2 linked regions of the Homo sapiens genome follow. The protein of the gene in region 1 interacts with the protein of each later gene in a pairwise test. Each region holds a gene or a part of one and is shown on either strand. Other genes may lie near its edges. The genes, in order: ZNF662 and HUNK.

Evidence for each region.
Region 2: the proteins of ZNF662 (region 1) and HUNK interact in a two-hybrid assay, tested with the Homo sapiens proteins (one large-scale study listed by BioGRID and IntAct).

The regions. Positions count from the first base shown.
Region 1 is NC_000003.12:42,912,375-42,916,196, forward strand, and holds part of ZNF662 (zinc finger protein 662), read left to right. Parts: intron 1-826; coding exon 827-928; intron 929-1,952; coding exon 1,953-2,980; 3' UTR 2,981-3,822. UniProt on the Homo sapiens protein: May be involved in transcriptional regulation.
Region 2 is NC_000021.9:31,994,989-31,998,810, forward strand, and holds part of HUNK (hormonally up-regulated neu tumor-associated kinase), read left to right. Parts: intron 1-779; coding exon 780-960; intron 961-3,537; coding exon 3,538-3,822.

The sequences.
Region 1 (3,822 bases):
ATTAAATATATATAATATATATTTATATATTATATATTATATATATTAATATATATATAATATTTTTGTATATTATATATTATATGTTATAATATATATTTTTATATATTTAATATATATTTATATATTATATATTTGTATATTTAATATATAAATACATATATTTATATATTTAATATAAATATATATATAAATACATATTTTATATATAAATATATTTATATAAAATACAAATATTTTTCTATAAAATATATATTTATATATTTTATATATATATAAATATATATATATATTTTTTATATATATAAATATATATATATTTTATATATATAAATATATATATATATTTTTTATATATATAAATATATATATATATATTTTTTGAGACACAGTCTCACTCTGTCGCCCAGGCTGGAGAGCAGTGACACAGTCTCGGCTCACTGCAACCTCTGCCTCCCGGGTTCAAGCGATTCTCCTGCCTCAGCCTCCTGAGGAGCTGTGACCACAGGTGTGTGCCACCATGCTTGGCTAATTTTTTTTGTATTTTTAATGGAGATGGGGTTTCACCATGTTGGCCAGGCTAGTCTTGAACTCCTGACCTCAGGTGATCCACCCACCTCGGCCTCCCAAAGTGCTGGGAATACAGGTGTGAGCCACCACGCCCAGCCTATCCTTATTATTCTGTACCATCAAATTTCTGCTTATCTATGTTACCAATCTTTTCACCCACCTTTATTCTCTCCCTACCACTTCCATGTCTGCTCTTTTCCTGATGGGCCTCACTCTTCTGACTGAGTCAGCCTTATTTGTATCTTGACCCTGGCAGGATATCCATTTCTAAAGCCTGCTGGGATTTCCCATCCTGAGCAGGTGGAAGAGCCATTAAACCTGAAACTGCAAGGAGAGGGTCCAAGCCTGATTTGTCCGGGTAAGTGAGAGGGAAATGAGCATTCTTCTCTCAGTCACATCTTTTCCTATCTTTCTTTTATAAGATGTAAAAGTCCATTTTGCCATTCATGTTCTAAACAAATATGGGGACCAGATCCTTAAATCAACCAATTAAGAGAAAACTTAAACCCTAAGCTTCCAACTTTCATTAGGACAAGCTCAATTAATTAAATTAATTAAATTAGGATGGGTCTTTTGCGTTAGACTTAAACTGAACAGATGGCCTGCCCCATCTAGCTGCTATGATCACCCAATATTTTTAATGTAGATGCTGTATTTTACTCATTGTGTTAGTTGTTAGAGATAAAAAAAATCAAGTCATATATGGCCCTTATCCTGGAAGGACTCACAGTCTCATGGGACATGATACATAAATGTATAATTACAGAAAAATGATGAAACTGTAACAGAATGTGAATAAGACACTATGAGAACAAAGAGGAGGGAGTCTTTTCCGAGTTCTGCCTGGAGTAGTTTGAGAAAGCACTTCCCATGGTTTCATGGTGAACTTGGTGCTTGGATTGAAAGAGAAGACTATACTTCCTTTTAGTGTTGAAAAGTATGAGGAAGCTCATTCTTGCTACTGTCTGCTGCATGTGACAAGCCCAGGTTCTCAGGTATACCACTAAGGATTCCTTATTTCTGAACAGGTCCTCTGCCCTAAGTCCTGGCCTGTTCTTCTCATGGTATAAACTGTACTCAGCTACCTAGGAGGAATTCTGACTTTGTTTTCCTTAGATTCAATTCACCTGTTTTCTGAGAGCCTACCCTGGTCCTTGGTTTGGTGCCAGGAATCATAGCCCGCAGGGATTCTATCTAGTTGCTGTCTTTACTTTTGGTTTCTTTCTGTGTATTAGCCTTGTTTTTGCCATTTTCAGCTGGGACAGGGCCACTGAGACATGGGTGGCACTTGGAGAGAAGTGGACGTATTAATACCACTTGGTGACCTTAGTCGCTGTGTCATGGATAATGATGACATTTGAAGCTCCAATTTCTTTTTTCAGAGGGTGTGTTGAAGAGGAAGAAAGAAGATTTTATTCTGAAGGAGGAAATTATTGAGGAAGCACAGGACCTCATGGTCCTATCAAGTGGACCCCAGTGGTGTGGATCCCAGGAATTATGGTTTGGGAAAACCTGTGAAGAGAAAAGCAGGTTAGGGAGATGGCCTGGTTACCTCAATGGGGGACGTATGGAAAGTTCTACAAATGATATTATAGAAGTGATTGTCAAGGATGAGATGATCTCAGTAGAAGAGAGTTCAGGGAATACTGATGTCAATAACCTCCTTGGTATACATCACAAAATTCTAAATGAGCAAATATTCTATATATGTGAGGAATGCGGCAAGTGTTTTGATCAAAATGAGGACTTTGATCAACACCAGAAAACTCATAATGGAGAGAAGGTCTATGGATGTAAGGAATGTGGGAAGGCTTTCAGTTTTCGATCACATTGCATTGCACATCAGAGAATTCACAGTGGGGTGAAACCCTATGAATGTCAAGAATGTGCTAAGGCCTTTGTTTGGAAGTCAAACCTGATTCGTCACCAGAGAATACATACTGGAGAGAAACCCTTTGAATGTAAGGAATGTGGGAAGGGCTTTAGTCAGAACACAAGCCTTACGCAACATCAACGGATCCACACTGGTGAGAAACCATACACATGTAAGGAATGTGGGAAAAGCTTTACTCGAAACCCAGCCCTTCTTCGACATCAGAGAATGCACACTGGGGAGAAGCCTTACGAATGTAAGGACTGTGGGAAGGGCTTCATGTGGAACTCAGATCTTTCTCAGCACCAGAGGGTCCACACTGGGGACAAGCCTCATGAATGTACTGACTGTGGGAAAAGCTTCTTTTGCAAGGCACATCTTATTCGACATCAAAGAATCCATACTGGGGAAAGACCCTATAAATGTAATGACTGTGGGAAGGCCTTCAGTCAGAATTCTGTCTTAATTAAGCACCAGAGGCGCCATGCTAGAGACAAACCCTATAACTGTCAGATCTCTCACCTTCTTGAACATTAGAGAGTGCATAATGGTGATACTTGTTTATAATTCTTATGCTGCAGGAACCCTAGAGACAAAATGAGATGACCATTCACAATTTGCTGTAACCCTTAACTTAAATAGCCAGTATTATCTTGCCCTTTTGAACATTTACCATGTACTCTAGCAAGACTGGTCCCTCTGTTCTATGATGTTTTAACAAGGCATCATTTAGTTGGGCAGCTACTCTGTATCAGGTGCTAACCACTTTACATACATTAATTTGCATAACAATCCTATTAAGGTAGGTGCTCTTCTCCCCATTTTACAAATGAGAAATCTGAGTTGAAAGAGGTTATAAAACTCATTCAGGGTTGCTCAGTTAGTAAGTTATAGAGTTGAAATTGGAGCCAGGCCTATCTGACTGCAGAGTTTACTGTTCTTTACTTAATTGTACATATTTATGTCTCTGCCCATTTTTATTTGCTTATTTTCCTGTGCTTTTAGTTTCCCTTCATCACTCAGATCTAGCTCCTTCAACTAAGAAGATCTCTCTTCCTCTTCTACTTGTAATCAGTACCACCCAAGTTAGTATTTAATTATGTGCCATCTTATATTTTTCTAATAGTCTCATGTCTTTTAATCTTAACCCCAGCTAAATGACTCTGAGGACCAACAGTACATTTCTTTTATGTTTTTCAAATCCTGAAACATTAATCTTTGACTAGATATAACATGCTCATGATAAAAAAGAATTGAAATAGTTGAAAAGGGTGTTCAGTGAAAAGTAAATTTCCTTGTCATTCCTATCTCTTGAGTTCTCCCCAGAGGCAATCACTGCTACTGGTTGTGTATCTCTGTAGATACTCTTTGTATACAAG
Region 2 (3,822 bases), on another chromosome or scaffold:
CAAGAAATCTTTTTTTAAAAAATAGCTGGGCATGGTGATGCACACCTGTAGTCCCAGCTACTCAGGAGGCTGAGGTGGGAGGATCACTTGAGCCCAGGAGCTCGAGGTTGCAGTGAGATATGATGACACCACTGCACCCCAGCCTGGGTGATAGCACAAGACCCTGCCTCAAAAAAAAAAAAAAAAAAAAAAAGCTTCATACACACGTTCATACACACGAGTACTAAGTACGCAAGTAAGTGCTCACACGATTAGGGTAGAAAGGGCTGGAAGCCCATCAGGACCGCTCAGGGCTCTCTGGATTTGTTGTATATGTTGTGTTGGCACCTCCTTGGCTTGACTGCCCCAAATAGAACCTGATGTGAAGGTGGAAGCAGTTATGTTTCCAGTTGCCTTTGCAAAGCCGTTATTGCAGGCACAATCTTTAAATGTAGACAGTGGGTTTCCAGAAGTCCTGCTCTGCTTCACCTTGGTTTGTTGGGCTTGTTCCAGAAGAATTGACCTCCTAGGAATGCCCTGCCCTTGCTGGAATGCCTTGGAAGAGCACAGTGAAAGGGAACTGGGGTCCATTGAAGGCCTCTCGCTGCCCAGGCAGAGGGAGATGGGCTTCCTGGAGCATTGGCTGGGCCACAGCTCCTCCCTCATTCAACACACAGTTGAGAGCATAGAGTATTGAAAAGGTGGAGTTTCTCTAATCAGTTTGGATGACTTTTCAAAGAGGAATCCCATTGTGTCTTCTAGTATGTGTCTAAGTGCATATGTTTGCTTCTGATTTGTAGGATAAAAAGCCCAAAGAACAAGAAAAAAGAGGGGATTTTCTTCATCGACCATTCTCCAAGAAGTTGGACAAGAACCTGCCCTCGCACAAACAGCCCTCAGGCTCGCTTATGACACAGATTCAGAACACCAAAGCCCTCCTGAAGGACCGGAAGGCCTCCAAGTCCAGCTTCCCCGACAAAGGTGGGTCAGCTCTGGGGACTCTCTCAGGCCACTCGTGTTGGGCTGTGTGTCCGCTGTGTAGCCCTCACAGGGGATGGTCGAATGGGCCCTAGAGCAGAGATGATTCCTGTGCCCACAGAAAAGCAGGATTAATGGACCTGAGGTTGCCTGAGCACAGTCCAGGACCAAGCTGTGTGGCATTAGCCATCTGTGCAGGAAGAATTTGAGAAAACAGAGATGGGGTGCAAAGTATTACGGAAACAGAAATTGGGGTGGATGATATTGTCAGAACAGAGGTTGGGAGGCACAGTATTGCAGGAGCAGAGATCAGGGTGTGTGGTACTGCAGGGGCAGAGATGAGGCTGTAAGGAATTGTGGGAGTAGAGATGGGGTGCAGAGCAGAGACCGGGTATCTCCCTGAGTTCAAATCCCAGCTCTACTGCCTGCAGAGGTCCAAGTTCCTTTAGTGCTGAGGATCTTCACTGGATTATTTGTAAGGCCTCCCACCTGTTGGAGCTGTTGGGTAGATGAGATGAGATGCATATATAAGCTCCCTCACCTGAGTCAGAATCCAGCCCATCACAGATAACTGACAAATATGTTTCCCTCCTCTGGGACGAGTGCTAAAAGATGCAAAAGGCAGACCTTACTGGGCACAGGCTTAACACATGGTAGAAACGCCAAGAGGGGACACAGGAGCTGAGGGCGTCCTGAAGCAGAGCCATGAAGTAGAGGAGAGGTTCTTATTACTGAGGGGGATGAGACACTTCTTGGAGTTCAATCTCCTAAAATATGAAAGACCAGGTTCAGAGAGGGCCGTGGCTGTCTGAGATACACTCAGGTGTAGCGGGCAGTTAGTCCCTGAGCGGGACTTGAACCTGCCTCCTGTCCTTCTATCTCCCATGCTGCTCCCGGAGAGAAGCCACTGTACCCACTTTGCCCAAAGCAACCTGCTTTCCCTGGGGCAGAGCATGCAGTGGATCGGGGAGGGGCAGCAGTGTCCATGTGGCAGCTGGAACACTGGAGACCTTGGCCATTAATGAAGTTTTACTTCTTTCTGCTGATGCATCTCAGGTGCCTGCGCCGGCCTTTCATTTCGGTGCCTGTGTGTTTATTTCTGCAAGGCAGGGAGGCTTCCCAGTGCCCTCAGCCACTCCCAAAATCGATCCCAGTGGGCAGGAGCTTGCTCCTGCAGCTGGGCCTCCACAGAGCCTATAAAACGTTATGGGAGAAGAAAGAAGCTAAGACAGAGCTTATTCCGCATGAACTTGGCTTTATTTCCCTCATCCCCAAATCTGTAGGGGGTTTCCCCTTTCTTTTCTGGCCCAGTTTCCAAACCTGGATTCTAGTCTATGCCAACCAGAGACAGAAACCATGGGGATCTGGCAGGTTGCCTTAACTGTATGGATGGATGATATTCTTCCCCCGTTCAGAATTGGATGAGGTTCCATCCAGATCAAAAGTCACGAGGGAGCCTTAAAAGGGAAGGAAATCCTGGCACATGCTCCAACACAGATGAACCTGGAGGACATTATGCTAAGTGAATTACGCCAGTCCCTAAAGGCGGATACTGTGTGATTCCACTTATATGAGGTCCCTAGAGTGGTTAGATTCATAGAGACAGGCAGTAAAATGGTGGTTGCTGGGGGTTTCAGAGAATGGGGATGTATATGGGGTGTTAGATTTGCAACAGGAAGACAGTTCTGGAGATTGATTCTACAACAGTGTGAATATACTTATTATTGCTGAACTGTACACTTAAAAATGGTTAAGATGATAACATTTCTGCTACGTGTTTTTTACCACAATAAATAAATTTTTTAAATGTCACAAGGGAAACATGTCTTCCACTGTGGGCTGTCCAAGGACCAGATTGGCAGGAATTCAGTCAAGGGACCTTGGTGTGCTTCTGGGAGTTTTATGGATGTGCTGTTGAGTGCATGTACCTTTTTTATTCCAAGATCCTTTGGCAAGGTCCAGAATTTTTTTTTCTTTTTTTTCTTTTTTTGAGACAGAGTCTCACTCTGTCACCCAGGCTGCAGTGCAGTAGTGCCATCACGGCTCACTGCAGCCTCCACTTCCCAGGCTCAGGTGATCCTCCCACCTCAGCCTCCCAAGTAGTTAGGACCACAGGTGCATGCCACCACACCCTGCTAATTTTTTAAAATTTTTTTAGAGACGGGGTCTTGCCATATTGCTCACGCTGGTCTTGAATTCCTGGGCTCAAGCAGTCCTCCCACCTTGGCCTCCCAAAGTGCTGGGATCACAGGCGTGAGCCACCGCTGCCTAGGGTCCAGAATTTTAAGCAACCAAAAGCAGGGACGATGTTAGGCTGGGGCCATGAGGCAAATTGGAATCCAGGAGACGTCCTGTCGCCAGCCCTCTGTCCCTCCATCCTAGGAAGACTGCCCGACCTCTGTGGGGAGAGTGACATGCTGCTGGTGACTTTTGCAAAGTAGCCAAGGCTGTTTGCCGGTTGGTTTCTTCTGACCTTGGCGGGAACTGTCTCAGTTAAGCTGGAGGTCACAGCAGGCAGGAGAAGGGCCGTGAGCACTGTCCGGACGTCCTCATGATTGTTTATGCTTTCTTGGTGTGCAGATTCCTTTGGCTGCCGCAATATTTTCCGCAAAACCTCAGATTCCAATTGTGTGGCTTCTTCTTCCATGGAGTTCATCCCCGTGCCACCGCCCAGGACCCCGAGGATTGTGAAGAAACCGGAGCCCCATCAGCCAGGGCCCGGAAGCACTGGCATCCCCCACAAGGAAGACCCCCTGATGCTGGACATGGTGCGCTCCTTCGAGTCTGTGGATCGCGACGACCACGTAGAAGTGCTGTCTCCCTCTCATCACTACAGGATTCTGAACTCCCCGGTCAGCTTGGCTC